2 separate regions of the Homo sapiens genome follow, and region 1 is linked to region 2. A link means that fine-mapping ties the variant in region 2 to the plasma level of a protein whose gene starts in the linked region. Region 2 holds a variant in brackets. A gene starts in the other region. All regions are shown on their reverse strands.

What was found. A credible set is the group of variants that fine-mapping cannot tell apart. PIP is the posterior inclusion probability: the model's chance that the variant is causal. Protein levels are from antibody-based Olink assays in UK Biobank. Linkage for the fine-mapping came from a reference panel and not from the study's own genotypes, which makes the PIPs less certain.
Region 1: it holds the start of DMP1, and the variant in region 2 is the best candidate, but not a certain one, in a credible set for the plasma level of the DMP1 protein (UK Biobank, PIP 0.58).

Annotation. Positions count from the first base shown.
Region 1 is chr4:87,642,299-87,658,675 of GRCh38, reverse strand. DMP1 (dentin matrix acidic phosphoprotein 1) reads right to left here and starts at 8,396. Exons shown (of 6, transcript NM_004407.4): 1 at 8,292-8,396; 2 at 2,130-2,204; 3 at 1,597-1,644. The coding sequence starts at 2,183. The region is part of intron 3 of DMP1-AS1 (DMP1 and DSPP antisense RNA 1); the gene reads left to right.
Region 2 is chr13:42,617,514-42,633,890 of GRCh38, reverse strand. No RefSeq gene overlaps it. Among named protein-coding and RNA genes, the nearest start is that of TNFSF11, 52 kb to the right of the region's middle. The variant C/T (reference allele first, on the strand shown) is at 7,924.

The DNA.
Region 1 (16,377 bases), not on the chromosome of region 2:
GCTTACCCCACAAGGTAGTTATGAAGATGAAACCAGCTAATGCCTATGGAAGTATCTCGAAAACTATTTATTCAACATGATATAAACTAAAGAAAAAATCCATTTGATAACATCCACCTTATAAAATTTAATAGTAAACAAAACTGAATTGAGAAAGCCATGAAACCCTTCTCGAGTCATGTAAAAGCCCTGGTATTAAAAACAAATGCTAAATCAGAAATTTAACTAGTCATACCTCTAATTTATTTCACTATCTTTAGTCTCATAAGCACTATAAGAATGCCTTAGCAACTTCTGGTACCCCTCCCCATCACTTCTTCCCCTTCCCCTTGAGGAGGGCAAAGTCCTGTGTGGAACACCCAAGGCGCAAAGTAGAGCAGGGAGGAGCTGCTATTGACATGTCTTCAACGTGCGTTTCAGAGGTGCTGGACTGGGGGTATCTCCTTAGGGAAAGGAGCTATAATCACGCTGTCTTTGGCCTGCAACACTGCAGGCAGGCACAATGGCAGGCTGTGCTCCAGTCAATTATCATTTGGAATTAATGGGTGGAAGGGAGCAAGACATTGTTATTTTTCTCATGCCAAGGCTAGACTTGAGAACAGGGCATGTTTGTGCGTCTCTGGTTAAATGAGAGAGAGGATCTAGAGTGTCTGCTTTTAAATTAACCAGCCTATGGATTTCTCTGAAGAAAGTTCATAATAAATACTGCAAAGTCTATTCCAGACTCAGGCATGGACAGGACCCCACCTCAGGTCACTGACATTATCTGGCCACCACCAAAAGCATTGGGGCCAAGCTTTATCATATGTAAAAGCCAGTAGGAAACACAGTAGTGAACAAAATGCTCTGATTTCGCATAAGATTTTAACCCTTAGTGCCAATCTTGAGAATTTTCTGACCTCTTAGACCTGGCTCCTTCCTGAGAGGGATATGACACACTGGTTAAGAATGTGGATTCTGGAGCTAGAGTGACGTAATATCAAAGTCTGGCTCTAACACTAATTGACCATGTAACCTAGACGATTGAATTACTCTCTGTGATCAGTTTTCTCATCTGTAAAGTGAGAATAAAACATAATACCTAATTCACAGAGGTGTGAAAATTAAGAAAGTTAATATATGTAAAACACTCAGAACTGTGCCTGGCAATGATTCTTGAGTTATTGAGAGTTAGTAACTCTCAATATAATAACATGCTAGCAACATTAGCTCTCATTCCAGAGACTCTAGTGTCCTCTCATTCTTCTTTCTTTTTTCACCTTCCAGGACTTGACCTCTTGCCCACCAGATAACTCTTGTTAAAACAGATTTCAAGTCATAATCTCTCCTGAAGACTCTTGATTCATTGTCATGCATCCCCTGGTACTATTATACACATCCATTATAAGAAGAAAGCTAACAGAAAATATGCTTCCTTGCCAGAGTATACTACTAAGTTGGAATCACAGCAGTATTTTCTTCTATGAACTCTATAGCTTAGCTTATTAATATGCTGATGAAGTCATTAGCAGTTTCAATATTTGCAATGAAATCAATTTGGTTATACTCATAATAAATTAAAATTAAAATATTTCAAAAAGTCATATTTCTACTCACCTTCCATTCTTCAGAATCCTCAGATTCATTATTTTGATACCTGGTTACCTAGAAAATTTAGTACACATGGTAAATCCAAAGAGAAATTTCTAAAGCAATAGTTATTAACACATTTCATACATAGGAGTAGGGATAGTCAAATTTTAGGCTGCATCAGAATCACTGGGAGGCCTTGTTAAAACACTGATTTCTGTTTCCTATCCCTAAAGAGTCTGGCTTAGCAGCTCTGAGGTAGGGTCCAAGAATTTGGATTTCTAACAAGGTCCTAGTTGATGCTGATGCTGGTGGTTCCAGGATGACACTTTAAGAAGCACTGCTTATAGGGAAGAAAAGTATGAATGATATCTATGTGAATGGCAACTGAACAGAATAAAAAACACCTTGAATGATATTTCTTAAGAAAACAGCATGCTAAGAAACTACTATTTTTACTGGACTGGAACATACACAGCCATCTTGGTTCATAGCCAATCAAAATTGTGGAGTTTTAAGTATGAAAGGGTTTTTTCATATATCCCTACCCTAATACTTACTGGGAGAGCACAGGATAATCCCCAAAGGAACATGAGCAGGATGCTGATCTTCATAGTTGGGTGTGATACCTCTACCTGGAATGAAGGACATAGATGTTTCTCTCCATGTTAAAGGAATAAAGTAGTTTCAACTTTTTAACAGTTTCTTCCTACTAAAAATTCATCCAAATGTCCATGAACTGATGAATGGATAAATAAAATTTACTGTATCTATAAAACAGAATATTATTCAACCATAAAGAGGAATGAAGTACTGACATGTGCTGCAGAGTAGAGGAAACTTGAGAACACTATGCTAAGTGAAAGAAGCCAGATAAAAAGGCCACATTGGAATGATTCTATTTACATGAAATGTCCACAATAGGCAAATCTACAGAGACAAAAAGTAGACTAGTGGTTGCCCAGAGCTTGTGCAGATGGGAGGTTGAGGGGTGACAGCTAATGGGTACAGGATTTCTTTTGGAGGTGATGAAACTGTTCCATGTATTGTAGTGAAGGTTGCACAACTCTGTGAACATACTGAAAACCACTGAGCTATACACTTCAAATTAGTGAAGTATGTGGTGTATAGATTATAACTCAACAAAGTGGTTTTTAAAAACCTCACTCCTAAGAAATAAATTGAAAATGTTTCAATGAGGAGATGTACAAACGCTAACACATAAAGTATGATAAATTGACGAAAAAGTAAAGAAAGAGGAATATAGAAATTTCTATCCATTCCCTTTTACAATAATTATGCAGCTTGGTATGGCAGAGCACCCTAGCAAATGTATTCTCCCTAAAAAACTACACTTATTGACACCAGTGATAGGTGGTGGGCATTTGTTTTCACACACACACAAACACACACATACACATACACACACACACACACAATGGCTTCTAAGTCACATTTATGACTGCATAATAATGTCTACACAAAATAGATTTTTTTTTGCTTTTTTTGTGATCTGCAAGAGATGCGCTAGAGTAGGCTTCATATTACAACTTCAGAAAGCTCTTAATATCTACTGTGACACGTTTAGTCATACATTATACATAATTATGCTAAATTATTTTTGCTGTCATTCACAGTACTGAAGGATTTGGGGAAGATTACAGGTTTGGGATACACTTGTAAATCATGCTGAGAGAAACACGCCAAATCAAACTATTTTTCTGGAGGGTAACTTCATTTCACACTTCAAGAGCTGTTGCTTTGGAAAACACTTTGTTTTGTATTTAAAAATAGAAGTACTAGATGCTAAAGTAAAAATTTATTGAAATGGTTTAAGGAACGCAATTTACCCTGCACTAGTAAGCCCTGGTAGCTGCCCTAGCATACTTGTCTGATGAACTTCCATACATTTCACAAATAATCCTGCAAGTTTATTTCACGTTTGTCGATTTGTTTCATTTCTTTAAATGTTAAATGTATACTGTGAAAGGAAAATAAAATCTTGGGACCCCAAACTCACTAAGTCAAAGGGAAAGTCAACCTAGGAACTGGGTCACTCAAACCTGCCTCCCATTTTGTTCTTAAAAAGATAGCTACAAGGATAAAAGGCTACATACCTCCCTCACAATTTTCTCACAGGGAAATTCCTGTGGGCCCTGAGATCTTTACCCCAAAACAGTCTGGTTGAATTTCACCCTCACAATGTAAATTAACAGCTTACCTTCATAAGTTCAGGACAAAGGACAGAACTAAAAGTCATTCCTCTTCTCACCTGAGACAGATGCATGTCTGACAGCTTCCTCTAGTCTATGTTTACTTTATCTTATGTAGAAATGCAGATTCACTGAGCATGAGACAAATGCATAATTGACTATTCCTCTACCCTCTCCTTTCACATATAAAATGTGGGCTCAGTGAGCACTAAACAAAGACTCAAAGGAATGCAACCACTTGCCTCTTTTATCTGTCCTTCCTTTCTCCTATTGCCTGTTCTTTCCCCTTTAAATACTGAAGTCCTCGGACTCTTTGTAAACAAACATGGACCATAGATGTTTCTGGTAGTTTTGTGTTCATTTTTCCCAGGTGCATCCTCAATTTTGGCAAGATAAGTCTCCAAAAATAATTGAGACTCACCTCAGTCATTTTCTTTGATTTGCAATAGTTTACTGGTATAGGAACTCAGAAAACAATACTCCATAATGAAGGCCTCAGAAGCAGCCTCAGAAGCAAAAGCTTCTCTCTGACCTTCCCCTGCCCTCCTATCTCTGGCCCCTCATTCTCCCCTGAGACTAACCATAGAAACTAGAATCCCTCTTTCCCAAAGGCAGGTTATAGAAACCAGAACCTCTTTTCCCCAAAGCCAGCAATAAAACCTGAAAATATTACCCTAAGTCCCCCTGTCTTTCTGTGTAACAACTGGCCTTAAAGAAATTCTCTGACCCCCCTAGTTTAATTGTATGTCATAAGACCCGCATTGCAGAGAAGGTCCTGTCCCATATCAAGAAGGAAGAAATGCTGCACGGAGAGGCCAAGAAGAATCTGGACAGGCTTTGCTGGGCCACCCCACTTGGTCTACTAGTATAAGGTCAAAACCTTTTTGTCCAATCATATTTCTACATGGCTGCCCATGTTTTGTTGGACATAAGCATAAAGATGGACAGTTTCTCCTGTATCTTTAGGTCTTCGTTCTGAAGGCTCCTGTGTCACATAAAAATAATTTTGTATTCCTTTTCTCCTATTAATCTATATTTTGTCAGTTGATTTTCAGCAAACCTTCAGAGGGTGAGGGGGAAGTTTTCCCTTGGCCCCTAAAATAATGATAGGAGTTAAAAGCCAAAGATTCTCAACCCTAAATATATATTACTATCAACTGGGAAGAGTTTTAAAAATGCCAATGCACAAATCCCATCCCAGGGCAATAAATCCATTCACTTGGGTGGGCACAGGAATAGGTTTGTTTTTAAAGTTCCACAAGAGATTTTAACACTTGATCTAAGAATTAAAAATATCATAATTAACCAGGCTTGGTGGCACGTGCCTGTAGTCCCAGCTACTCAGGAGGCTGAGTGGGGAGAATTCTTTGAGCCAGGGAGGTTGAAGCTGCACTGAGCCATGATCGTGCCACTCCACACCTGTTTGGGTGACAGAGCAAGACCCTATCTCAAAAAAAAAGTATATATATATATATATATATATATATATATATATATATATATATATCACTCGATAATGCCTGAATATGCTGAATATTGTCTGAAACATTGGGCTCAAGAAGTCATCTAATCTTATTTTTAATGTATTCAATAAAATAATAGAAATCCTAAGATAAGGAGCCTGAACAGGCTTCTCATTTCTGCTTTCACACAACTCAAATGGTCAAACAACCTCTCATGTATATTATGGGCATTATCTCTCCTCAGCATAGTTATTCTTAATTTGTGCTACTTTCTTTATTCTAATTCGCATAGTGTATATCAGTCCTTATGTTTGATACTATCTTAATTTCTTTTAAAAATCCTTCAATTAATATCAACAGAGAAAAACATATGAAAATGCTTAACTATACCAAAATCAAGCTTAATTTAATAGATGTTACTTCTCTTTAGATACCACAATCAAAACTTTTTAAAAAATGTGTTAGGTTTATTTCTTCAGGAAAGCAAAATTTTCTCAAATATGATATTCTCAAAATAACCCTTTCAATGCTTTCAGTTTCACAGATCAAATGAAAGTTACCTCATCATTTTAATTTTCAAAGTGAAATTTGAATAGGGTTATAATTTCATGATTCTCTGAAAGCTAGCAAATGTTAGAGCCTTGACAGAAGGTCAATGACTATTGAATTCTCTTGTATTTTCTTTAGCTTCTCTAATCTAAATAATTAGAAAACTGGGGATGCCATTGTGCATTTATTCTAAACCAATGAACGTTGTGTTTTCTCACAAAGAAGTGCATGCCCCAAGTGCTCAAGTTTCTTAGGGATGGAAGATTCTAAAACACAAGAAAGATGCCCTAACTTGCTCAGGATTCTAGAAATACTCGTTAGCATCCTGACCTAAAGCAATAATTTCCCAGATGCAAGTCTAGTAAACTAAAATAAAAGACACTCTAGAGTTCTGAGAGAGCTGATGTTGCCACCCAAAAAATATAGTCCAACTGTAAGCATTAAAGAAAATCAGATCTTAAACCCCTTGTTAGGTTTGCATTTGGTATTTCTGATAAAAATAATTATAATTTTGTGAAGTGCATTTCCAAACAAGAGCTCCAAACTTTTATAAACATTTTGGCTACTATTCAAAAAAGAGTAGAAGCAGATAGGCAGTAGCCATATTCTGAATAATAAATGTGAACCACAGCTACAAGCCTGCAATTAAAAGTCCAGAACTTTGAGTTCTTCTTCAGTGATTGGTTAATGTTATTTCTACATTCTACATGCTGTCATTCTACAGTGAGATGACGTAACAAAAGGAAATAAACAACTTGAGTTCCATCCATTTGGAAGGCGGTGTATTAGAGAATTTCTGCCCCTGTGAATTGTTTTCATAGAGTTGAAAAGAGCCAAATGTTTAGAATGTGGAGAGGGAAACTAAAGTCAAGATTTCAGGTGTGTAGCCAAAACTTCTTTCGGCTCTTAAGTAAGGAAATTTGTTCTAGCATTTTCTCAAGGTTAAGATACATTTGTAAAATATATATCTTCTTTTATGTAAACCAAAATGAAGGAAATAGGCCAAAAGAAGAAAATAAAGGTTTGAAAAGTCATAGACTCTTTTTTCTTTTGGAAAACAATTCATCATATTAATTTGCTTTATTTGTCTTAGTATTGTTATCTTCAAGAACACAACTGAACAATACATTCATTCATTAGCAGTCAGTAAATATTTATGAACATGCAATGTGTTAGGCACTTTTCTAGCCCATATTCTCAAAACCAACAATTTAAGAAACTCTAATATTTTGGTAGCTTTCTCCATGTACAACCTGTAAATGTACATTAGCAGGAAACTTTAATAATAATAAACAATAATAATAAAATAAGTTGGTTTTATAATAATAAAATTAACCAGAATCCAACTAACTAGAACCTGCTAGAATTTGTTTTCTTATTACTCTTTGAAAATAGAATCAAACTTGGCCAGGATATGAACTCTACCAGGAATCCAGAGAAACAAACAAACCAAAAAAAAATCCAATTCTTCCTATTGTATGTGTCTTCAGGTCAATTACGATGAATCCAATATTATATGCTTTTAATCACAGGAATATACCTCTGAGGTGCCCCCAAAATTAAATATAGATTTGGAAGGCCTCTAAGCATCTGAGGCACATTGTTTTACATCACCATTTTCAGGTAGGTAAGTGGACTAATACCCTTTAGAAAATAGTTTGTTCGCATTTTTAAACAACAAAGTTAAAATAAGATAGTCAAGCCTCAGTTAAACAGAAAGTATGGTTAACCACAAGTTACTGCTCTTAAGGAAGACAAGTTGCTAAAACACATGGACTCTTCTAAACGTCACACAGATGAAGAAGTGCACTAAATACAGTAAATAAAAATACATATGGACATTTTAAAATATATGTTTTAAAATGCAATATTTTAAAATATAATTATATTCAACATTTATTGAATTCTAACTGTATTCAAGGCATCATGCTAACATGAATACAAAAAACATAATTATCACACCCTCAGTTATTTCAGTAGTTTAATCATCTTTTAGTTACTTATGCAGTTCATAATAAATGTTACTAGATGCTCTCTAGATGAATAACATTTTAATTTAAAAAAAATTCTTTTTAAAGTCCTGCCATTCAATAAGTTTAGCTTTTTTTTCACAATCTTGTAGGTTGCAAACATTCCCTTATTCATGAAACACACTGTAAAAGTTTTATACGTTTTGCTAATTAAAACTAAATTTCAAAATGACCTTCCATCTGCCTCCTGTTCTATAAACTATCCCTTTTAGAAGTGTCATGCAGAGATCTAATTAAAGCATTACCAAGAAAAACACCTGGCTGTATTGTCTTAACATGTCATTTTCATATCATTATTTACTGTGGCATAAACAACAGGCACAAAAATAGGAACTGTTTTTACCCAAAGCGCAGCTCTCCCATCTCTCTCTACATGGTATAATGCCTCAAACATGTATACATATTTAATATTTTCCAAACAACCAGCAAAAGTCATTTTAAAAAATTAAATGATGAAAATGACTTACCCTCCGTAGTTCACAAAGAATTTTTTCAAAAAGTCTCAAAAATCAGGTTGATGTTCTCAAAGAGGAAATCTATGCCCAATGAAGCCACTCTTGTGTTGATATTCTGGACACTTCTCTGATGGTGCAGGAATTTAAACTCTGCTGCAGCTCTTCATAGCCAATCAACCTCAGGCTGGGGGTGACTGACATCACAAGGTGTCACCGGGACCCCGGTACACCCACACTTCCTCCAGCTGGCAGAGGCACATTTTCCCTAAAAAGCTCTTGTGGTTCCCAAATGACTAGACTAGTTTCCATTAAATTGAAGATCTTCCCAAAACTTTATTTTGATTTCTAAATATATGTCATTCACATTCAGGCAGTCTTATGAACAATGACAATGTCTTCTACCCACCGACAGATCCCAGCAGACCCAAGGATGGGAAAGGCGGAGGCAGGGGTGGGTAGAAAGTTTCCTGTTAATGTACATTTCCAGGTTGTACATGGAGAAAGCTACTAAAATACTAGAGTTCCTTAAATTGTTGGTTTTGAGAATATGGGCTTTTATTTCTTCCTTTTTCCTCTTTTAACAACCTCTACTACTCACCTCCTTTTCCTCTCATCTCCCCACCCCCATATACACACAAAGTTCCCAAACTCCTACTAATCTAATAAAGCGTCCACTAAAGTACCCCCCTTAAGTAGCTATTGTGTTATTCAAGAAATTTAGATCTAACACTTAACACTTAATCATTCCCTGTTTGCCACATTTTAATGATTCTTTGAAATCAGAATTGGATTAAGGGGAATACTAGCTGGGTAGCATCCAAGGAAACTAATCTTGAAGGGACTCTGTGCCACCACTGAAAATGTAATGAAATGGATAAAATGATATTTACCAAAACATTTTCGAGGAAGCGTACTAAAAGTTGTAGGGAGCTGGAAATGGGTTTGGCAATTTCCCAGGAGCGTGTTCAAGTGACGGCAGGATGGCCACTGAACAAGAATTTAGAGAATATCAGCTGCTGGACCTTAATTTCCTTAAGAGTAGGGATGTTTGCTTGTCTACTGATCTATAATCAGTGCCTGGATACCTAGAACAGTTCTTAATAATCACTCAGTACTCTTTGAATGACTGAGTGGATTGGCTTGAAAATTAGCCAAACTATTAACTTGATTACAGTATCTGCATAACTCACTGTAACTTTTAAAAAAATGCTTTAATTGTTAAAAAAAAAATTGAGCTGATGCTCCTAACATGGATCTAGAAAATTAGAGTGCCCAATTTATTCAGGCAACTAATGTCAGATATATGGATTATCAACATATTTAGTGTGAACTATAATATGCGGGGGAGGGTGGTGCAGACAATGAGGAAAGAGATGTCTATTTTCATTTAGGGTTGATTAGAAAGCCAAAGTCCATATGGGGAAGCTATAAATTCCCTGTGATTTGCTCTGGTTCTGAATTACACTCTCTGATGGTTTCATGGGTCTTAACTGAGATCTATGCTAGAAGAACCTTATAATCTTATGACAGAATTGGATTCTGGGCAGATTTGGGCAGATTGCATTACAAGACATTATTTTAGACTCTCTTCAAATCCCTACATAAAAACAGAGGAGCAATTAGATAACAAAATTGAAAACTGTGGATAACATTTACAATAAAACTAGGCATTTTTGTTATCTATTGCTATATCAAAAACCACTTCAATACTTTGCATTTTAAAACAACTACCATTTTCTTATCTCTCACAGCTAGCATTGTAGTCATCTGAAGACTCAGTTGGGGCAGAACATTTCAGATGCCACTTTCATAGTTGTTACCTGAGAGCTCAGCTGGAGCTGTAATTCTGAGCACTTTAGTTCTTTACATGGCCTCTCCTTGGCTTGGCCTTCTCACAACCTGAAGGCTGGGGGCCAAGAGTTCCTAGAATATCATTTTTCCATATTCTGTTGGTCAATCAATCACAAGGAGATCTCAGATTCATAAGGAGAAATACTCTCTACCTTTTGGTGTCAGATCAGGATGCACATGTATAGGGAGCAGAGGAAACGTTGAGGTAGTTTTTGATTAGTTACCACCCCTTATGACAAGTTATATCCACTAACTCCAAGGTGACTAAGGACAAAGTCCACAACTGCCACAAGACCTAGAGAGTCTATGCAGGAGTGAGCGGAGGAAAGCAGCAGGAAATCTGATGAACATGAGAACAGCAGAACCCAAAGCAGTCAAGAATTATTGCTGATGGGTGCCAATGGTTCATAGCACAGCTGAAGGATCTAGACCAGTCTAGCCCCTAAGGATTCTAAGCCACTACAGCTGCTTTCTAAGACAGACTCACATACAGGAGAAACTTCTGGGAGTGGAATAAAAATTGCACAGGATATAGACAATAGAGAAGACACAGATAAATATGGGAGAGGGGAATGGATCCAAGAAATCTTAGAAAGCTGCTATTTTTTTTTAACATAACACGAAAGCAACAGAAGAGGGAGCCGTGTGAAGTTTGAAAGTTACCCTGAACCACATTTCTTTCTAAAAGTACAGGAAAACCACTTTCATATAAAACAAACAGCAAAAAACTATGAAGGTTAAATCCCATAGGAGCAGAATAACAACCTGATAGACAAAGTATGCTTAAAAGACATAATTAAATAATAAATTAAAACCCTAAGCTTCTATTTTTAAAATAGTAAAGAAGTATCAAGAAAATGACACAATAGGTGAAAAAAATACATGGAAACTAGAATAATTCAGAAAATAAATATCAGGACTCAGGAAAATATTAGCATGAAAGAAAAAATTATTTTAGAAATGAAAACTAATCTAGAGGGAACACAAAAGAGAATAAATATAATAGGTAATTATTCAATGGAAGTAGAAGGCAAAAAAGAGGGAAATATTTTAAAGTTAAAAAAATAAATAAATAAAAAGTATTTGGGAAAAAGTGAATTATATTAAAGATTGGCAAAGAACATCCAAATTGTAGATTATAGGAGGCCTAAAGAAGATAACAAAAGTGAGAGAACAGCAGAAGTACTAAAAAACAAACGAATAACAAACATATCATCGAAGGAAGTTTCCCTGAATTTAAAAAAAGAAGATTAAAAACTCTCATTTAAAGAGCATATCATGTACCTGAGAATATTGGCCCAAAATGACCAACACCAAAACATATTCTAATAAAATTACTGAACTTTGAAGGTAAAGTCCTTTGGGCTTCTAGGCAAAAGCAACAAGTGATTCATAAGGGAAGGGATATTAGATTATCATTAAGACTTTGACAGTAATGCTTCATGCCAGGAAAAATAAGGTAATATACCTAATGCATTCAAGATAAGAAAATGTGAAGTAAGGATTTTATAAGTCAGCAAACTGACTTTTAGGTATGAGAGGCTAAAGCAAACTGCTATCAACAGGCAAGAATTCAAGGAATATTATTTTCTCAAACCATTGCTGGGGAATCTACTAGATAAAGAGTTTCAGTCAACCAAAATAACTAGAGAGGCATTGTCGTAAGAACAGGTGATAAACATAAAACATATAGTTACTTGTAAAAATGTAATTAAGTGAGGCTAAACGGGAGACAGCACGGTATATAATAACTAAATACTTAGCATTGATATAGTGCAGCTTTTAAAAAGGTGGGGAGAACGGAGAGCATATGTGCAAAAATAATTTCAACTGCTCTCAATAATTATACTAGTGATGGCAATATTATTGTTATTCTGAGAATGTTGTATGTATAATGTGGAATAAAGTATATTAGTAATTTTGAATTATTCTCTTTCTTTAACCAATGCATCCATGAGAATCAGGATTCTCAGTGTGAAAGAAAGGAGATACAAATTTGATACAAAAGAGCAAAAGCCCTTTGGGAGGCCGAGGCCAGCAGATACCTTGAGCCAGGAGTTCCAAACCAGCTTGGGCAACATGGTGAAACCTCATCTCTACAAACAGTACAAAAAAATTAGCTGGGCGTGGTGGCTCCCACCTGTAGTCCCAGCTACTCAGGAGGCTGAGACAGGAGGATTGCTTGAGCCCAGGAAGTCAAGGCTGCAGTGAGCCATGATCACACCACTGCACTCCAGCCTGGGTGACAGAGTGAGACCCTGTCTCAAAAAAAAAGAGTAATGAACTCCATAATCCTATAATCCTGAATTTAAATGGAAAAGATTAGAATTTACTCAGGGATTATTATAAAGACACACTCACGCACACACACACATATCCTACATGTATATCTTAGCTCTGTCACTATAGAGACCTAAAAACACAGTCATAGCTAGGACCCCTAGAACCCGGATTATGATCTAGCATCTGGGGCCTGTTGGGAAATTGGTTGATACCAGGTCTATGACCCAAAATATGCAAGATGAGTTTGGAACATATTGTCGTCCCAGATTCCAGGAAAGCTATCAAAGATTACTAAGATTCTGTCAAAGGACTCAGGAGCCAACTCAAATAGGCCTCTACTGGCCAAAGATGGAGCAATGTAGTCTTTAAAATAGATAATTTTAAATCTCTGAGTTCATAATGATATTACAAAAATGAAATAGAATACTAATTGGTCACCTTGGGATGATAACAGGAAGCCACTTCATGACCTTGAAAACTTATAAGTAAGTGGAAAGAATGAGGTATTTGTGCAGACCTCTATGAACTAAACCAAATTAGACATGAGGGGAAGCTTATCTTTGTAAAAGAATTGTGTGATGATTAATTTTAGGTGTCAACTTGACTGGATTAAAGAATACCTAGAGAACTGGTAAAGCATTATTTCTGGGCATGTCTGTGAGGGTGTTTCTAGAGGAGCTTGTCATGTGAGTCTGTGGACTTGGTGAGAAGCATCTGCCCCTAGTATGGACAGGCAATATCCAGTCTGCTGGAGACCCCGATAGAACAAAAAAGGAAGCAGAAAAATGATTTCCTCTCTCTCTCCTGGAGCTGAGACATTCTTCTTCTCCTGCCCTTGGACATCACAACTCCAGCTTCTATGGCCTTTAGGCTCCAGGATTTATACCAGGCTACTCCTCCTGACACCCAGGTTCTCAGACCTTGGGCCTCAGACTGAGAGTTACACCATCAGCTTCCCATGTTCTGAGGCTTTCAGACTTGGACTGAGCCACACTACCCTCATCACGGGGTCTCCAGCTTGCAGGCTGCATGCTGTGGGACTTCTCAGCCTCCATAATCACATGAGCCAATTTCTCTAATAAGTCCCTTATCAATTAATATGATATATATATCATATTTATACATATATATTTACATATCCTATTATATATATTTATTTATCTTATTTATATAGGATATATACACAGATGTATATACACACATATATCCTATATAAATAGAATATATAAATAAATACACATAGGATATATAAATACATATAAATAGGGTATCTGTATATAAATATATCCTATATATATAGGATATCTGTGTGTGTGTATATATCCTATAATATACACATGGAATATATATGGATATATACAGATACATACATGTATATATACACATGGAATATATATGAATATATATAGATATATACATGTATATGTGTATATATATCTTATGTATATACAATATATATATAGTGTATACCTATCCTATGTGTGTGTATATATATCCTATGTATATGTCTCTCTGGAGAACCCCTGACTCTATATACATAGCTGTGTATATGCATAGCTGTGTATACAGCTATGTATATAGAGTCGGGGTTCTCCAGAGAGACATATACAGGGGTATATCTGTATATGTCTATGTTACTAGAGTATGTTTTGGTGTTGGTTATGTAATATTATTATGAACTCACAGATTTAAAATCATTTGATAGGTTTCAGTCTGTTGCAATTACTGTCTATCTTAAAGATTACATAGTTCCATCTTTGGCCAGTAGAGGCCTATTGGAGTTGGCTCCTGATATATATCTCTGTACATGTCTCTCTGGAGAACCTTAATACATATTCCAACTAATAAACAGCCAGGCATGATGGCTCACACCTGTAATCCTAGCACTTTGGAAGGCCGAGGCGGGCGGATCACGAGGTCAGGAGTTTGAGACCAGCCTGGCCAATATAGTGAAACCCCGTCTCCACTGAAAATTCAAAAAAGTGGCTGGGTATGGTGGCAGGCGCCTGTAATCCCAGCTACTTGGGATGCTGAGGCAGGAGAATCGCTTGAACCCGGGAGGCAGAGGTTGCAGTGAGCTGAGAACACGCCATTGCACTCCAGCCCGGGTGACGGTGTGAGATTCCATCTCAATTAATAAATAGAAAATGACATAAGTCACCATTTTACAACTCCCAGTGAATTTATCCAGGCATTGCAAATCAATGTCTAGTTAGCTCATGAAAAGAAAGACAACCAGACTATGTGGTTCCTGGTGAAAGAACACAATATCACCTATAGTCTGTTAAAGGGATCAAATTCATTGTGATCAAACTTCTGGATCCAGCCATCAAGTTTCAGGAAATACAAATAGCAGGACGATTTTGAGTTGCATTACATATGTAATCAGTAACATTTAGACTGTGGGAAACTCGACAATTCAAACATCCCAGGTTCTTCATCAGATAAATTATTAGGAAAAAAAAGAGAAAAAAACGAAGTATAGTTTAAAAGATTTTGAGACTTAAAATACACAGCAATCTTTTTTCAATGGGCAAGACTAAATTATAGTGTCAAGGTCACACACTTGGGTAATAATACTTTAAAAAGAAAGTCCAGGAAATGATTTCTATAAAATTCAGGATGGTTGTTACTTCTTAGAAGAAGGTGTTTCATTGAGATAGAGCAAGAGAGGAACTCCGGAGTGAGTTCTCGACCTCTATCTCTCGACCTGAGTGGTGATTTCAAGCATATCTTTCTTATAATAACTCACTAAGCTACAGATTCATCTTGTGGAGCTTTCTGTATCTGAGGTTATTTTACAATAAAAGTTTTAAAATATATTTAAATCCCTGTGTTTATGCCTTTTTTAGAGACAGGATCTTGGTCTATTGCCCAGGCTGGAGTGCAGTGTCACAATCACAGCTTACTGCAGCCTCGACCTCCTGAGCTCAGGTGATTCTCCCACCTCAGCTTCCTGAGTACCTGGGGCTACAGGTGTGCTCCACCACACCTGGCTAATTTTTTATTTTTTGTAGAGATGGGGGCTGGTCTTGAACTCCTGGGCTTAAGTGGTCCTCCTGCCTCAGCCTCCCAAAGTGTTGAGATTACAAGTGTGAACCACCGTACCTGGCCAGTTTATTCATTCTTAATGATACCAAAAACAAAACAATGCACAGACACACACACACACACACACACACACAAATTTCCCAACATTAAGAATATTAAAGAACCAATTCATTATTTTTGAACTTTACCTAAATAAAAATAATCAAGCATTTATCCTATGTTTCCTTTATAAATTATACCACTGGGTAACAAATGAGAAGTTTTTCTTTATAGACATAAATGAAGAAGGAATGATAAAATTAGAATATCATCATTTTGCAAACCCAAACCGAACTGCAAATTCAGTAAAATCCAGACGGAGAAAATCTACAGGACAAACAACTTTGTTTCTTCAACAAATAAGTTGCAAGTAAGAGAGCAAGAAAGAAAGTAAAACCTACAGATTAAAATAGAACTGAGAGACACAGCAATCACTTATGTGAATTTTATTTGTCTTCTAATTCCAAAAAAAAAAAGCTGAAAGAGAGGACAATTACAAAACAATTGGAAATGTAAACACTGACATGAAATCTGATGATTTTAAAGAATTATTTTTATTTTTAGCATGATAATGGTATTGTGACAGTTATTAAAGCGTACTTAGCTTTTTTTTCCTACTTTTATTTTCAATTCAGGGATGTATGTGCAAATTTGTTACATGGGTACATTGCATGACGCTGAGGTTTGGGGTACAAATGATTCCGTCACTTAGGTACTGACCATAGTTCCCAATAGTTAGTTTTTCTATTTTTCTTTTTTATTATTATAGTTTAAGTTCTGGGGTACATGTGCAGAATGTGCAGGTTTGTTACATAGGTATACATGTGCCATGGTGGTTTGTGGCACCCAGCAACCCATCATCTGGATTTTAAGC
Region 2 (16,377 bases):
GGGAACTCTCTCTGTTCTCTGGTCAATTTTTCTATAAACTTACTCTAAAAATTAAAGTCTATTGATAAAGAAGAAAGCATTCATTGTAGTTAAATCACTGAGTAGCAGATAGGATGTTTGTTCTGGGGTGGAGGGGGTGGTGCTTGCTGGTTGAGAGTTTGGTGAACAATGTCTGGAGAGGAGACTGGAGATGTAAACACTAGTTGGATCATGGAGGGTCTGTGAGTCATCAGACTCCATCATAAAAGTGATAGAGAAGCATTAGGGTGAACAGTGACAAAATCAGATATGCCTTTTTAAAGGGCAACTCTGATTGCAGGGAAGAGATTTTATTAAAAGGAAGAAGGATGAGAGGCAGGGAGGGTGGCTGCTGCTGCAGTCATCAATGAGAGATGAAAGTGGCTAACAGTAGAATCATGGCAACAAGGACAGAGAGAAGGAGTGCAGTAAGGAGATGATTTAATCTGGAAGCAATTTACCTATTAGATGGTTGGATGTAGGGAGAGAGAAAGAAGGTTTTGAGCAGATCATAAAAATGTTTTTTAAAAACAATCATAACAACCATGTGCAAACTATGAGAAGCATGCTTGCCAGAAGCTTCTGGAGAGACAGCAAATGCAGGCGGGTTCCTCACCAGGACATTTGTCCTCCTTGTAATTCACCGCCCACTCTGTCAGCCCAGGCTGTCTGTAGCAGCTGTAGAAGGGCCCTTCTACAGGCTATGGTCATCAGCTGATAATTATTTTTCTAGTTTTTTCACGAAACATGAAGCACTTTGATAGATATCAACCAAGTGTTGGAACAGGTCTTCTGGCACGAAAAGATAGACAAAGCACTTAGAGCTTCCTCAGGGTATTTATGTGGTCGAATGCTCCTAGCTTTGAAAAAACTGTGGCAGTTGGAAAAAATATTAATAGTTCTGTCTCTCATGAGAGACAGAAATGAGGGATCTGTGGTTATTTGTATTTTAATAATAGCATATACTGTTGCCTGTCTAATTATAAAAATAATATCTATGCAAAGTGAAAAAATGGAGAATATGGAAAAACATCACCAAGAAATAACAAAGGATTGGTAATATTACTACCCAGAAATAAATGTCTTGATACTTAGCTTTTTAGGTTTTTTCTATATACATGTACTTCTTTTGAAGAAAATTTAGGTCATAATGCACATCTTGGTTTCTTTTTCTTACCTAAACAATTGCTTTATTAGGGTAGATTGAGTTTTGGGATAAGTGTCTATTACAAAGACACACAAGAATATAGTGGTTCCAATAAGATATAAGCTTTCTTCTCTCTCATGTAGGGAGAAAGAGGTCCTGGGCAGCTCTGCTCCTGCATTAGCCCAGAGACCCAGGTCTATACCGTCTTGCTCTACACTCCCCGGAGCGTTGCGCTACTCCCTATGGTTGAAGCAGACCCAGCAGTACCACATGGTATCACACCAAAGAGAGAAGGAGATGAAAAGAAAATGGGAGGCAAGGAGCTTCCTCTTTTAAGAAAATGCCCTGGTAGTTTCTCCCTTCTTTTTGGACCACTTCCATTTGCCAAAACTTAACAACATGTTGTAAATACACCTAGTTATAAAGGAGCCTGGGAAAAGTTGGTTGCCCATTGCACAGCCATATATCTTGCAAAACCCCTGCATGAAAGAGCTTATTTCTAAATAAAAGGGGAAAATAGATACTGAGGACATTTGTCAGCCTCTGCCTCAAGTCACCCAATCACTCAGTGTGCTTTCCTAACCACATAGAACATACTTCTCCTCCAAGGGAGGCGGAGTAGTAACTATCCAGTTACTACTCCCACTCAAAGTCCAAGATTTCTAGGTGACATGAAGTCCTCTCCAGCAGGACTGAAGGTGGTGAGATCTGAGGACTTATAGACTAATAAGCATGTTTCCTGGCACCTTCCTCATACTTAATGGTTCAATAATGGAGTCAAACAGGAGAGCAGCGATAAAAACTCCCGTTTGGAGAAAAGGTGAATGGGAAACAGAGTCATTATGGTCCTAAATAATAATGCAATCTTATTGGGAAGAAATTGTGACAAGTGAAATTGTGACAAGTCTCAGCCAATGCAGAAAATTCCTTGGTCAGTAGACACAAGTTCTCCCCTCTGGCAGAAACTCCTTTGTCCACTGACCTCTTTGAGACTCTGCTTGTCCATTCACTTCTGTGGCCACAACTAAAGTGAGTGTGGGAAAACATGCCTTCCTTGGGGATGGACAACTTTCCTTCCTGGGGGTTGCCTTAGGGATCAGAAAATTACAGCTTTTGCAGGCCAGGTTTGTGGTTTCTTTGATCCCATAATTCTTTCAAAATTCTTAGCAGTTTTCTGGACTGTTTGCTTTCAGTCATTTCCATGAACATGGAAGGATAGCCAAAGGTCTTGTCTGCATAAATCTTAAGTTTCTCTCATTTATTTCCTCAGCTCTGTCCTTGGACTATTTTCTTTCTAACTCAGTAGCAACTTTGAGGCCATCTGAAATAACAGGCTTGGGTGAGACAACGATATGTTTAATTTTATATTTGCTATTGGATTGGCTCCCATGGTTCCATGAAGGGGCCCTGGAGGAAGGCTCATAGACACAGTATTATCTCTTTCTGCTTATGGTGCTGAAGCAGTCCAATTTTCCAGCTCCATGAAGCTTAAATTACTGGACAGTCAATTCACACTGTAGTCCCAAGCACAGGAGACATCCTTATCAGAGTTGTATTTCCTTCCACCTCTACTTGCAAACTGACACATTCTTGCCAAACTTCATCTCTCTATTCATCTCTGTCTACTAAAAGCAGCAAGGAGCAGCAGCCAGCAGAAACCAACATTCCAATTTTGTTTCACTGTTTCCCCCAGAGCTCCAGGCTTGGTAAATAGATAACCTGCCTTCAAAGTTATCATAGGACCAGTTTTACCAAATGCTTTGCTGTGGTTTGAGAGAGGTCACCAGCTTTGCAGCCTGCAATATCTGTCTCCTTGCTGCCTATAACACAATTGTTACACAAGAAAGATATAGTTTGCATTTTTGTTTCCCCTGCAGGGTACTATTTCTGGTACCAATTTATGTTTAGCCATGATTCAGGCTAACCTACTCTTACACAAGGCCCCAAAACACAGTATTGGAAGATAGATTGATTTTTTTCTCTCACAAGATAAGGAGTTGGGGATGTGAAAGCATCTCTGTTTATGAGGCCATGCAGGAACTCAGGTCTCTGTGGTCTTGTTGCTTCTTCACCTGCTAGGGTACCAGCCTAGATGCCTTATTCAAGCTTGCTCACAAGTACCGCATCTGCAGTCTGGCCTAGGGTGAGTGGAGAGGAAGGAGGGGGCAGGCAGTTGCTTTCTTTGATGGATGTGACTCAAGATACTCATGTCATTTCTGGTCTCATCTCAATTTCAAGGCAGGCAGGGAAACCTGTGCCTTGCTAAAACTTGGTGGGAGTGGGAGTCTACTACTGAATCCAAGATGCCTAAATAGATAGCAGGAGCAACTCTTCCACACTGTTGAATGATGAGTATTTCCCAATATCCTTAAATGATTTTTCAAACAAAATTTTTATTGGCTGTAGGATATTTCATCATATTCCTCTGTCATTGAACATTGTTTCCCAATTTTGGCAGCAGTATATAATGCTTTAGTGAACATTTTTATTTAGCAGTTTTTACATACATCTCTGGATTATTTACTTGAGAGAGATAGAGACTTAGAAATGGAAATGTTGTGTACAAACACTTTAAAGGAAGCCAAATGCCTTATAGAAAGATTGTAGCAATTTGTAATTCTGGCTGCAGTATGTAAATCTGCTCCATCCTCACATAATCTCCAATACTTAATATTTTTATATTGTAAAACTCTTTAAAATCCAATTTAATATATTCTCAACTTTGTAAGTGCTATTTACTGCAAGAAATAAAATCATCAACAACAAATTTACTTATTGGCCACCTATAACGATATTTCTCTAAAGAATCAAGGTAATAGAATGATTTTTTAAAGGTTCTTCTTGCTTTAAGGAAATATTTGAGTGGTGGAGGGGGAGAAAAGAGCCAGCCTGGAGCATCCTGAACATATTTTATGCTGTGTATATTTTTGTGTGAAACTTGTTTTCTAATTAAAGAAATAAATACAGTCTCATTGTGAGAAATTTGGGGGAAAAAACAGAAAAACATAAAGACAATGAGAATTATACTAATTAGACCAAACTAGAAAATCACCTTTTAATAGCTTATTGTATCTGTACCTTATTTTTATAAACTTTGTTTTTTGGTGTATATATTGTTTCAAATCCTTTCTTTTTTACTTAAAAGCATACCTACACATTTTCCCATGATATTAAAAATCCTTCAAGAATCTAATTTTAATAACTACATTATATGGCTATAATAAAACTAACATTTATTAAACATTCATTAAAATAAGAGCAATTGAATTCAATTATTCCAAACACAATATAAGGTCGATAATATTATAGCCCACAGTGGCAGATTTTATTATTGTACCTAATTCTTCACCCTTTTGTAGAGCCAAGAACCGATTCTCCTGTCCACTCTCCAGGGCACATTTGACAATGTTTGGAGATATTTTTGGTTGTTCCAACTGTTGGAGTGCTACTGACATCCAGTGTGTAAAGGGACACAGGGTTGCTGCCAAACACCCTACAATACACAGGACAGTATTACAATGAAGAACCCAAAAGGTCAATGGTGCCAAGGTGCTATAGGATCATGACTTTTACTGTGCAATTTTGTTTTTCACTCCTTGACTTGGGTTTGGCCAGTGTGACTTGCTTTCATCAATAGAATGAGGTGGAAATTACAATGTGACATTGTCTTATGTGTTTTCACTTTTCACTCTTGTGGCTCTCCTATCACCATGTCAAGAACATGCTCTGTCTATCCCACTAGGTTAAGAGAAGAGGACAATCGATGTGGAGCAGTGAGAAGCAAAGCTGCCCAGCCAAGTCCAGCATACATGCACCTGTGTGAGCGATGACAATGAACGATTGTTGTTTAAGGCCTCCGAGTTGTGGGGTAGTATTTTATTTCGCAATAGGTAATTAATAATATATGGATGAGAATACTAACTTATCCCCCAGGTCAGAAAATTAGTAAGTGAAAGAGCTGGCTTTCAAACTCAGACCTAGCTGACTTCAGAGCCCACCCTTAACCATTAGACTAGACTGTCTTTCTAATGCCATCACTTACATAACCATTCCTATGTGCCACACCTAAGTTGTTTTCTGTGCTTGGCAATTGCAAATAACACTTCGGTATACATCTTTTTACATAGAGGTTTATCACCAATGCTGATTTCTCTAGGATAGAATTTCTCTGTGAAAGGACTTGGACTTTTTAAGGAACTTGATGCTTTTTGACTGAATAATTTTTAAAGGAGATTTACATCATCCAATTCGTTCTATTAATTAACAAAAATTCCATGAGCTAATTAAGAGTTTAATTAATATTTCCTACAGCCAGCACTATAATTTTAGATAAAGTATGTAATGCATCAGAAATGGACTCTTAGGCAATGTTCATACAATTTGAAATGCATGAGGAACACTTACAGTCAGCCATGGAGTATTATGCAAGATGCAATTTATTCGTGCTTTTATATTATATATAATAATATATATATATCTGAAGAAATGAAACCCACTTCTATAGCAATTCATTTTCAGGAGGCATTTTTAGGAATAAACCCAGTAAAAAAAAAAAAAAAATGGACCTGTCTAAACAAGACACTGCCTGAAGGTGAAGTTAGCAGCAATTGTGCAGCAGCAGAGGTGTTAAAGCTGGCTGAAGAGTGATAGTTTTTAGAGGGTCTATGTCTAATAAAATGCATGTCTAAGAGTGACATGTGAATAATGTGACTTTGTAAGCCTCAGTAAAAAATATAGATGGATGCAAACGTCTCCCCAAAGCCAGCATGTGACCCCAGTGAAGAAAGCGGGATTTATTTGTGTTGATTTTCACTTACCATAACCACTTCAGTCTGCAGAACATCACTGTCAAACCCCTCCTCCCATAGGTGATGGTCAGCAAAAACCAGTACCACAAAGAAAGACCATTGCTGTTTCTCTAAAGGGAAGGCAGAGGAGATGGAATAGGTAGACTTGAGGCAAGAAGCTGAACTGGGGTTTTACATGTTGAAATACGTGTTTTGATCTTGCCTTTAGACAACATCAGGGGCTAAGCCAACACCACCTCCTCTGCCAAGCCCACTTGCCTGGGAGCGCCCAACTCTGCCACTTGTTGGAGGACAGCACAAGCCTGAGACCTGTGCAGTCACACAGGGCCCTGCATGCAGAAGGCCCCCCACATTTGGCACTGGAGGTTTTTCGTAATTTTATATTTTAATTTGTGTTTTACAACTGAAGTCTGATGGAACACTGGAGTATGCTTAGGGGGCTGGGAGTGTCACCCACAGCTCATCCCTCTCCTCATTCCCCCTCCCCTCACGACTAGTATAGCCCCCACTGAAAATGATGACTCTCTCCCTCCCTCCTTCTCTTATTAAATATTTCTTGGATAGCCCCTAGTTACTGGGGCTACAAACCCATCTCTACAAAAAATGAAAAGTAAAATAAATTAACTGGGCACAGTGGTGTGTTCATCCCAGCTACTTGAGAAGCTGAAGTGGGAGGATTGCTTAAGCCCAGAGTTTGAGGTTATAGTGAGCTGATCCAGTAACTATACTCCAGTCTGAATGACAGAGTGATACCCTGTCTCAAAAAAAAAAAAAAAAAAAAAAACACACAAGACAAAAAAAGAAGGGGAAGGAAGGGGAGGGAATGTTAAAGAGGATGTTTGAGTGTACCTCGTGGATGAGGAGCAGATAACCAGATAGAGAGGGGAAAGGCTGCCTGGATCAGAATGCACAATTACAGGTGTGGAAGGGCATGCACGATTAATGAGGCAGCAGGTGGTATTTTGGTGAGACTGGGGCACAGCACATAGAAGCCAGGGGACAGAGAGTTCAGGAAAAAAGCTCATATAAAGAAGTTGATGCCAGTAGATGTTTTGCACTTAATTTGTTGGCATTCAGAAATGACATGAGGCTTTGGGACAAGTGAGTGACAGGTCTGTAACTGTGTTTTAGAAAATTATCCTGCTGGATGCTATGGAGGAGGGCTGAGAGCCTCCTCAAGGTGAAAGTTGGGTAAGAAGAGCAGACTAGGGCTTGGCCACATCAACTTGCTGACGTGAAATGGACTTGTCGAGTTGAAACATGTTTCTCAGTCATCTTAATGACCAATTCCTGCAGTTATTTGTGCTGGTTGTGCAGCTGATCCAAAGCAGTTGTCAAGTCATCTAGGAACCCAAAATGGTTATCAATCTCATGTTTTGTGCAGCCAAGTAAATATGGAAAAACAAGCCTTGATTAGGCTCCATCAGGCCCAAAAGGGCTAATGTTAAAAGAATGGAACATTTTCATCCCAGATCCTCAGTATATTGGCTAGAGCAGAAAATTTAAAGGGAATTTTTGATTCTAGAAAAATAGACATGTGCTGGAAATTCAGCCCCAAAGCATTACATGTAAGCCAAGTAAGCATGGGATGGGGGTGGTTCAGATGAGGGTCACACAGCTGTGAGTGCAGAAGTGTTCAATGGGGTTTTACCGCAGAGAAATCTTCCAGTTTGCGTTCTGTACACAAAAGCGGCATAAAGTCCTTATCAATATGCTTCTCCATAGGCTAAGCATATAGCTCCCTCTGCTCTCCTTTGACTTCTGCCCAGACGCTGGTTTATGAGAATTGCCAAACCTATTCTTTTCACCACTGGGGGCCCCTCAAAGACACTGGTCAAGCCCAGGCCAGTTGTGCTTCTTATTACTAAACAGCCATAAAGGAAAGCAATGTCTTAAGTCCAAGGGAAAAGGTAGCCCTCTGTATCTTTCAGGGTAGGCTCAATTAGGCTG[C/T]GCCAACAAGCAACTCCAAATTCAAAAAACCAAGAAGGGATTTCTTGCTCACATTCCATGTCCATTGGGATCAGGGAGAGACTCTGCCTTACTTCGTGCTCACTCCAGGACCCAAGATGTTGGGAGCTATGCCATATGGAAAGCTACTCATTTTGGTAGCAAAGGGAAGAGACCACTAGAGGTTTTTGCACTAGGAATTAAATGCTCTGGCCCAGATGTGACACACGTCACCAAGCCTACAACACATGCTCTAAAACCAGCATTGTGACCCCATCCAGTTGCAGGGTGGAGTAGATGTGTAATCTATCCATGTATTGGAAAGGAAAAAAGAACTGAATGTAAATGAAGCCTAGTAGTTACTACCAAAAGCAGAAGTAGGCATCCACTGAGCTGAGCTCCTAGGGAGAGCGTCTCACTGTGTAGTGTAGGAAAAGAAACAGGCCATGGAGGGGCTGATTCCCAAAGGCCTCAGGTGTGACAGCTCCATGGTGTGACCTGCCCCTTTCAGACCTTACTCTCAGTTTCCACAGGAGCATACCCCTCTGCCCTTTGCCAAACAAATGAGGGCAAGTTATACTACTGATGTTCAAAGAAAGCCATTCTGAAGGATAATGTTTCTGTTGACTTCACTTTTGACTGTTAAGGAGCATGGAGAACTGCTCCCTGGTGTGACAGGGAGGATCTTGAAAGACACTGTGAATTTGCTGTTGGTCCTCAGCCCAGTATCCCTAGCTCCATACCCCCTTTTCTGCTCTATCTTTACTGGGGTTCCTTTCCTCTCTTCAATTGCCCAGTGGCTTCATTGTCTTTCATTTTGCTTCTCACCCATCCCAATTAAGTTCTACTCTCCACTCCTTCACTCTCCAGTCCTTCACCTGCTTAACTTCTACCCAAACTTCACGAAAATTGGCTCAGCTGTTATCTCCTCCTGGAAGCCCTCTCTGAACTTTCTGGGATGGACACTGTGCCTCTCTTTTGTGTTCCAAAAGCCTAAGGGGTATCCAGCTGTACCCCCTTATCTGTGGTTTCGGTTAACCCGGCCTGAAAACAGTTGAGTACAGCACAATAAGATATTTTGAGAGAGAGAGAGAGACCACACTTACTTAACTTTCATTGCAGTATACTGGCATAACTGTTGTATTTTATTATTAGTTATTATTGTTAATTTCTTACTGTGCCTAATTTATAAATTGAACTTTATCATATGCATGTATGTATAGGAGAAAAAACATAGAATATGTAGGGTTAGGTACTATCCATGGTTTCAGGCAACCAGTGAGGGTCTTGGACCGCATACCCCATGGATGAGGGGTCCACTGTGTTTATATTATGACACTTTTCACCTTACATGGAAATTTGCAGTCTCCTCCTCAAAGGTCCTAGAAGTCAGGAGGCCTGTCATTCATCTTTTTGTCCCCACTGCCTGTCTGGCACTAGCAGATGCTAAACAAATGAAGGCCTAAATTTCTGCAAAACTTCTTAGTCTAGGATAGTACCAACAAATGTCCTACAGAAATCCCTCATGCTCCTTTCCTCCAGACAGAAATTTCAAACACCCCAAGAGTTATGAGTTGCAAACCTGCCAAAGCTTTGCATCTTTGAGATCGGAGTATTAATCTCTAATACCTAGAAAGAGCACCAGGCAGAAAACAGGTACCTGAACCAGGAAGACCATTTCCATCATGAGACTTGGAAGTTTGCTGAGCATTCCTAACATTTTTTCTTCCATCACAGTCCCTTGTTCTGGCATCAACTCATTATGGAAAGGGGAGAAGGGAAGTGAAAAGGAGAATGGAGAACCTGGGACCACTGCCAAAAAAATCTTAGACCACAGTGGGATCACACATAAAGAGCAAGAAGGTGCCAGCTCTCAGAAGAATTGATCTGTCCCAATTCAAGGCATGCAGCCCTTGCTGGAAGAGGGAAACCAGCCAGAACCCCCACCATCTCCGTTCTCACTTCACCAAACCCTGCTGGAGTGACAGCTATTCCCCACCCGGGATTTCATCAGTCTTCTACTTGGCAAAGCTTCCATGGGTTCTTTTATTAGCTAAGGAAGCCACCATTACTTTTATATAAATCAGCAATAGGCCAGTTTATTGTTCCCAGGAGACCAAAAATTACACTATTTGAAAGAAGAGGGACTGAAGAAAAAGAGTTAACTCTGCTCTGCAAAACAGGACACATGTCAATTGTTCTGAAAGCCAGTACCTTTCTTGCTCTATGGTAAAAGAGAGTCTTGCAAATTGTCTGAACAGCTGGTAATGTGTTCCTCCTCTTCCTAACGAATTTATACTATATGAGCCTAATGACTTATGCTTGCCTTTGGTAGAAGCATGTGTGGGTGTTTTTATGTCTTATTTAGTGGTTACTCACTGAAAAAGTAGTAGACTAAAAAAGGCTGTCTGCAACTCCCACTGTGATGGAATCTTCAAGGTGCCTGGAACTGGAGTCCCATACTCTAGATCTCTCTGTGGGACTCAGAATGCAAAGAACTTTCTACCCATGCTCCTGTCTCCACCATCAAACTCAAACTAGTTGAAAGATTTGTAGGGCAAGAGACTACAAACTGTCTGCCTGCCATCTGCCCAAGTCGGGGATATGTTTGAAATCCAGACTGGTCACCAAGCATTGGGACTCTTTGCTTGGAATTGGGAATTTAAGAGGTGGCATCTTGCCCTATACTTGGAACCCTCAGAACTTTCATACCTGGCACTACACAGGATTAAGAATGGACCCTTGACCCTAGGTCCATCTCTGGCCAGTCGGAAGTAGGAAGATATTACCTGGGGTGCTTTAGGAAATGTTTTCCTGATCCTTAGAAAGTGATATAAAGGGATAGTTCCCTTCTTCCTCTGAACTTTGCTGTAACTGATTTGATGGCTGGAACTGCTGGGGTCATTTGGTTACCATCATGAGGGTGAAGCCAACACACAAAAGGGAAGAAAGCAAAGGCCATAATAAGCGGAGCTGGAGCCCTGACATACCACACCGGTAGCCTGATCTACTGCTGGGTTGCTTACTATGTGAGAAAACAAATTTCCTGATTATATTTCTTTAAGCCACTTTGAGTTAAGTTGTCTGTGACTTATATTAATAAATAAAAGCATAGTAAGTCACACTCCTCAAATACACATGGACACATACATACACACACACACGCACACACAATCTATGTTCTCTAGATAGTCCTTGCTGTTGGAAATGCTATTCGTTAGTGAACCATCCCTTTCATTGGGGAATATTCTTTCTGCCATTTCTGGGAAATGTTCTTTTAAGTCTGTTTATTTTTGTTTTATTTTATTTTATTTTTTTGATTTCAATAATTTTTGGGAAACAGGTGGTTTCTGGTTGCATGGAAAAGATTTTTTGTGGTGATTTCTGAGATTTTGGTGCACCCATCACCTGCGCAGTGTACTGCACCCAATATGTAGCCTTTTATCCCTCACCTCCCCTCCCACCCTTCCCCCCAGGTCCCCAAAGTTCATTATATCATTCTTATGCCTTTGCATCCTCATTGCTTAGCTCCCACTTATAAGTGAGAAGATACAATATTTGGTTTTTCATTCCTAAGTTACTTCACTTAGAATAATGGCCTCCAGCTCCATCCAAGTTGCTGTGAATGCCATTATTTCATTCCTCTTTATGGCTGAGTCATATTCCATGGTGTATATATGCCACATTTTCCCTATCCACTCGTTGGTTGATGGGCACGTAGATTTGTTCCATATTTTTGCAATTTCAAATTGCGCTGCTACACACATGCATGTGCAAATGTCTTTTCCATATAATGTAAGTCTTTATTTTTTTAAAGTTTGTTTTAAATTTTGTTTGATAATATATTGAGTCCTTACCAAATGTTAGACACTCTAGGCTCTGAAGAGTATAGGTTAAGAGACACAATGAAAAGATGGAGCTGGTCTTTAATGATTTGGATTTTTTTTAAATGAGGGAGAAGAATTGGAGAGGCCACTGTCTTCTTGGACTCCCCTCATTTTCACCATGAGGCTCACTGCAGATGAATCAGCTCCACCAGGCAGAGAGGAAAGTACAGAAGTGCTCAGTGAAGAGGAAGAAGAAGATGGATTTGGCCCTGACACCCTAATTCATTTCTACCTGGAAGACATTTTTATTTTGCCTGCAGCAAGGAGAAAGTGATCCATTGCAACTGTGATTCAAGGGTACTGCCTTCCTGCCTTCCTCCTTTCTCTTCTGCTTTAGAAGAGAGAAAGGTTTGAAGAGACAAACTCATTCTCTAGAATGTAAAACCAGAGCTCAACAAGAGAAAAAAAAATCATTACAAATGTCAGATCAAGGTAGAATTAATTTGAATATCTGGGTTACCATAGAGACCAGGGCATGAATTGACCCCACTGACCCCTCAAGTTTTCCCGAAGATGATTTCTGGTTCAGAAGGTGGCACCAAAATCCCTGGAAATGATTGCTGGTTTAGGGGGGTATGAAGGAGCCAGAGTGGGAAGGCAGCTCAGGAAAGCTGTGAGATGTTCACTGGGTCAAACTGTGTAACTAACTGGTCTTACTGATTTTGAGAACAGGGCTCTATTCAATTCCGATTACATTTTATTCTTTATGATATGTTTGCGCATCTATTGTTTTACTTGAACTCTCAACAACTCTGCAAGATAGGTGATGTGGCTATTAATATTTCAATTTTATGAATAAATAAGTAGAGTTATAGGAAGTTTAAGAGCCTTATCAAAGGTATGAAATGATTATTCAAGAGACAGGACTAGACCCCTTATCTCCAAACATCAAATTCACTCATCTTTTCACTCTGTCATACTTCACTGCCATGGGATTACATGTAAAGGCACTACACCTGAAAAAACCAACAATGATAAACGGCCCCTTTGTCTCCATCCTAACCCCCTCCACTCACCTAATTCTATGTGGTTCTGGCAAGAAATTGGGGTGAGAATTTGAAGGGCCCTTAAGTGCCACATGACAAAAGCTGGGCTGTGGATGCTCACAATTGACAGAGGACACAGGTGAATTCATCAGTCATGTATTCAAGAGGCCTCTATGGTGCTCTTCTCTGCCCCCATTATGCACTCAGCACCTTTGGGAACACAAGAGAAGCACAGAGAACACACTCCCCCCGTGCTAAAGCAGCTCACACGCCTCTAGAAAGATGAGATAAGACTCGGGAAACAATTAGTGGGTGGTCCAAGATAAGAGATAATCAAGTCTTAGATTGTGTGATTAAAACATAAAGAACAATAGGAGTTCACAGAAGAAATAGATCACTGATGGATTCATGGAGAGGTGGGTCTAAGACAGAGATTTGAATGATGGTGGGAATCTGGCCAGGTGAGAAGTAGGAGGACAGCTCAGGTAGAAGGAACTATCAGTCACATTGTCTGTGACAGCAGAGTGAAGAAAAAAAAGCCCTGTGGTTTTACATTCAGATCCCAAACACACACACACACAGTCCAGATGTCACTTAACATTTATGAGTCCGTAAACTGGGATGACGGTCACTGCGTAGAAAATAGCGAGGGTTAAAAGAGATTATGTATGAGGTCAGCTCCTAGCATAATGCTCAGCACAAAGGAGATTCTTGGTACTTTTTGGCTAACCTGAGGAGAAAAGGAGCATGTCCCGCTACTGCCCAGTTCACAGTTTTTAACCATGAGACATATGCTGTCATGGATCTTTGAAAAGAAACAAATGTAGATATTTCTTAAGCATTGATCCTGGTTTAAAAGACACACACACACACACACACACACACACACACACACACACACACAGGGCCTGGCATTGCATGGTGGCTCATGCCTGTAATCCCAGCACTTTGGAAGGCCAAGGTGGGTGGATCACTTGAGGTCAGGAGTTCGAGACCAGCTGGCCAACATGGTGAAACCCCATCTCTACTAAAAATAACAAAAATTAGCCAGGCATGCTGTGGCAGGTACCTGTAATCCCAGCTACTCCAGACGCTGAAGCACGAGAATCGCTTGAACCAGTGAGGCAGAGGTTGCAGTGAGCCGAGATCACACCGCTGCACTCCAGCCTGGGCGACAGAGCAAGACTCCATCTCAAAAAAACAAAACAAAACAAAACAAAAAACACACAAAAATGCTTTAATAAGACAATTGATAATTTTTGACAATTGGATCTAAAATAGTCTATAAATCCTTTTTGGTGATGAGAGGGAAGTTATTGTTTATGGAAAGACTGGTGACTACAGTGCTACCTTTTACAAAGCCAAATTGAAAGGACCAGAGTGGCTGGTGCCAGAGGCACTGGAAATTTAAGAAGACGGGAATGGGGAGAATATATTTACTTCTCTATGCAGAAAGAAATACATTTTTGGACCCTGGGTTCACCTGTAGGAGTCAGGCTCCTAAAGGGGAACTGTGGAGGAAAATAATAACCCCCATAAGTTCTTAGTTGGAGTGGACCCCTGCTACAAAGACAGATTAACAAGAGAAAAACAAACAAGTGTATTAACACGTAGATATCATATGTAAGTGGCAGACACCCAGAGAAGGAGTAGTTCTCAAAGAGGTGGTTTGAATTCCAGCTTATATAACATCAGCAAATAAGAGAACATTTTTAGAGAAGTGACAAGATAAAGGAAAAAAAAAAGAATTTGAGTCTCTACAGGCAGCCACATGGAGGGAAGGGAAATAAATGAAAGGTGAAGGCTAGTTAGTCCCATTTGTTAATGTAGATTCCTCTGCTATTATTTCCAGGCTGATGAGGGTCTAAAGCTGTCTTCAGTGGCCAACCTTTGTTCTCCCTGGTAGAGTAGGGAGCAGGGCTGGATACGTTTTGTTTTTGTAAATATCTGCCCTGCTTTTAAGCAAATAGAGGGAGGGCAGAGAGCTTTCCTGCATCTGCTTCTTAATTGCCTTCAACTCTTCATATTTTGGTTGACATATACCGATCTCCCACAACAGTTTCCTCTAACAAAGGCAGCTGCTCAGATATTAAGGGAGATTCTGATGGACTTCAGGAGTCCTTTCACTGAGTGAGCTATGCAAGGCTGGGCCAGATGTGAACTGTTCAGGGCAGCCAAAAGGAGCCTTCCTGCTTCCACCAGCAATGCAGCAGCACTCTTCTCTGTCCTTTCATATACATTGTTCTTCTCTCTCCTAAACAAATCTTCAACAGATATTTTAAAATATTTATTTATTTATTTTATTTATTTTGAGACAAGTTCTCACTCTGTCACCCAGGCCGGAGTGCAGTGGTGCAATCTTGGCTCACTGCAACCTTCGCCACCCCGGTTCAAGCAATTCTGCCACCTCAGCCTCCTGAATAGCTGGGATTACAGGCGTGTGCCATCATGCCTGGCTAATTTTTTTTTTGTATTTTTAGTAGAGATGGGATTTCATCATGTTGGCCAGGCTGGTCTCAAACTCCTCACCTCAAGTGATCCGCCTGGCTCTGCCTACCAAAGTGCTGAGATTACAGGCATAAGCCACCACGCCTAGCCTCAAAATATTTATTTAAAGTAGACTACGTTGGTCTGCCCCACGTGGTTCAGGACCTGCCTTCTGATACATCTGGGGCATTGAATGACAGCAAAAATCTCCCTAAATCTCCTGTAAAAACAAAACTATGTCATAAGAATTGCTTGTTTTAATAATTTAAAGGCTATAGATACTAATATTAACAGTGCATAAAATTTCCAAAGGATTTTATAGTAAAGCACAAATGAGAAAGATTTTCTCAACCCTGTTTGCTTGTTTTTCTCCCTTTAGCCAGCTCTCACTAACAAGAAATCTAAATTCTTGCAGTCCTCTTGAGCCAGAATCTTAACGCTCTTCTCAGGCCAGGAGGTGCTCTACAGACATTGTAGCTTGTAGAGTTGGATGTTATGGGCCAATATCTGAGGCTTACTTAGGAATTCCTAGGTTTAAAATGTCAAGGTTTCTATTTTAAAGAAAGACTTTCTCACAAACCCTTATTATATCCCACAAAACAATGTACGGCTGACTTTGAATTCCTTTCAACAATCCATTAAACACACATGCACATGCACACACACACACACACCCCTTATTAAACAGCCACGCCACAAGGATACCATCTTTACCCAAGCAGCTTACATGCTACAGGGACATTTCAATTAATTTATCTCTGTCTGCCGTGCTTACTCCCTTGTTGATGTCAGTAAACAGGGTGAACAAGCTGTCAAGTCATCTTTAAAAAATTAACTCTCAGCCTCTTGGGTTTGTTTAAGGCATTTAGGAAAACATCCTCCTTTCATACGGCCCTGCTTCCTCATCTTGTCTTCTGGAATCAGGAAGAAAGGTGAGAAGATGGGCAACAAGAGCAAAAACTCCGTCTCAAAAAAAAAAAAAAAAAAAAGAAAGAAAGAAAGGTGAGAAGATAAGTGTTTGGAGGAAATAATGGGGTGTTGGATGCTAAGCTTGGTTCCTGCAGGGTTTTCTAACCCCTAATTCTGAATACTTAAGT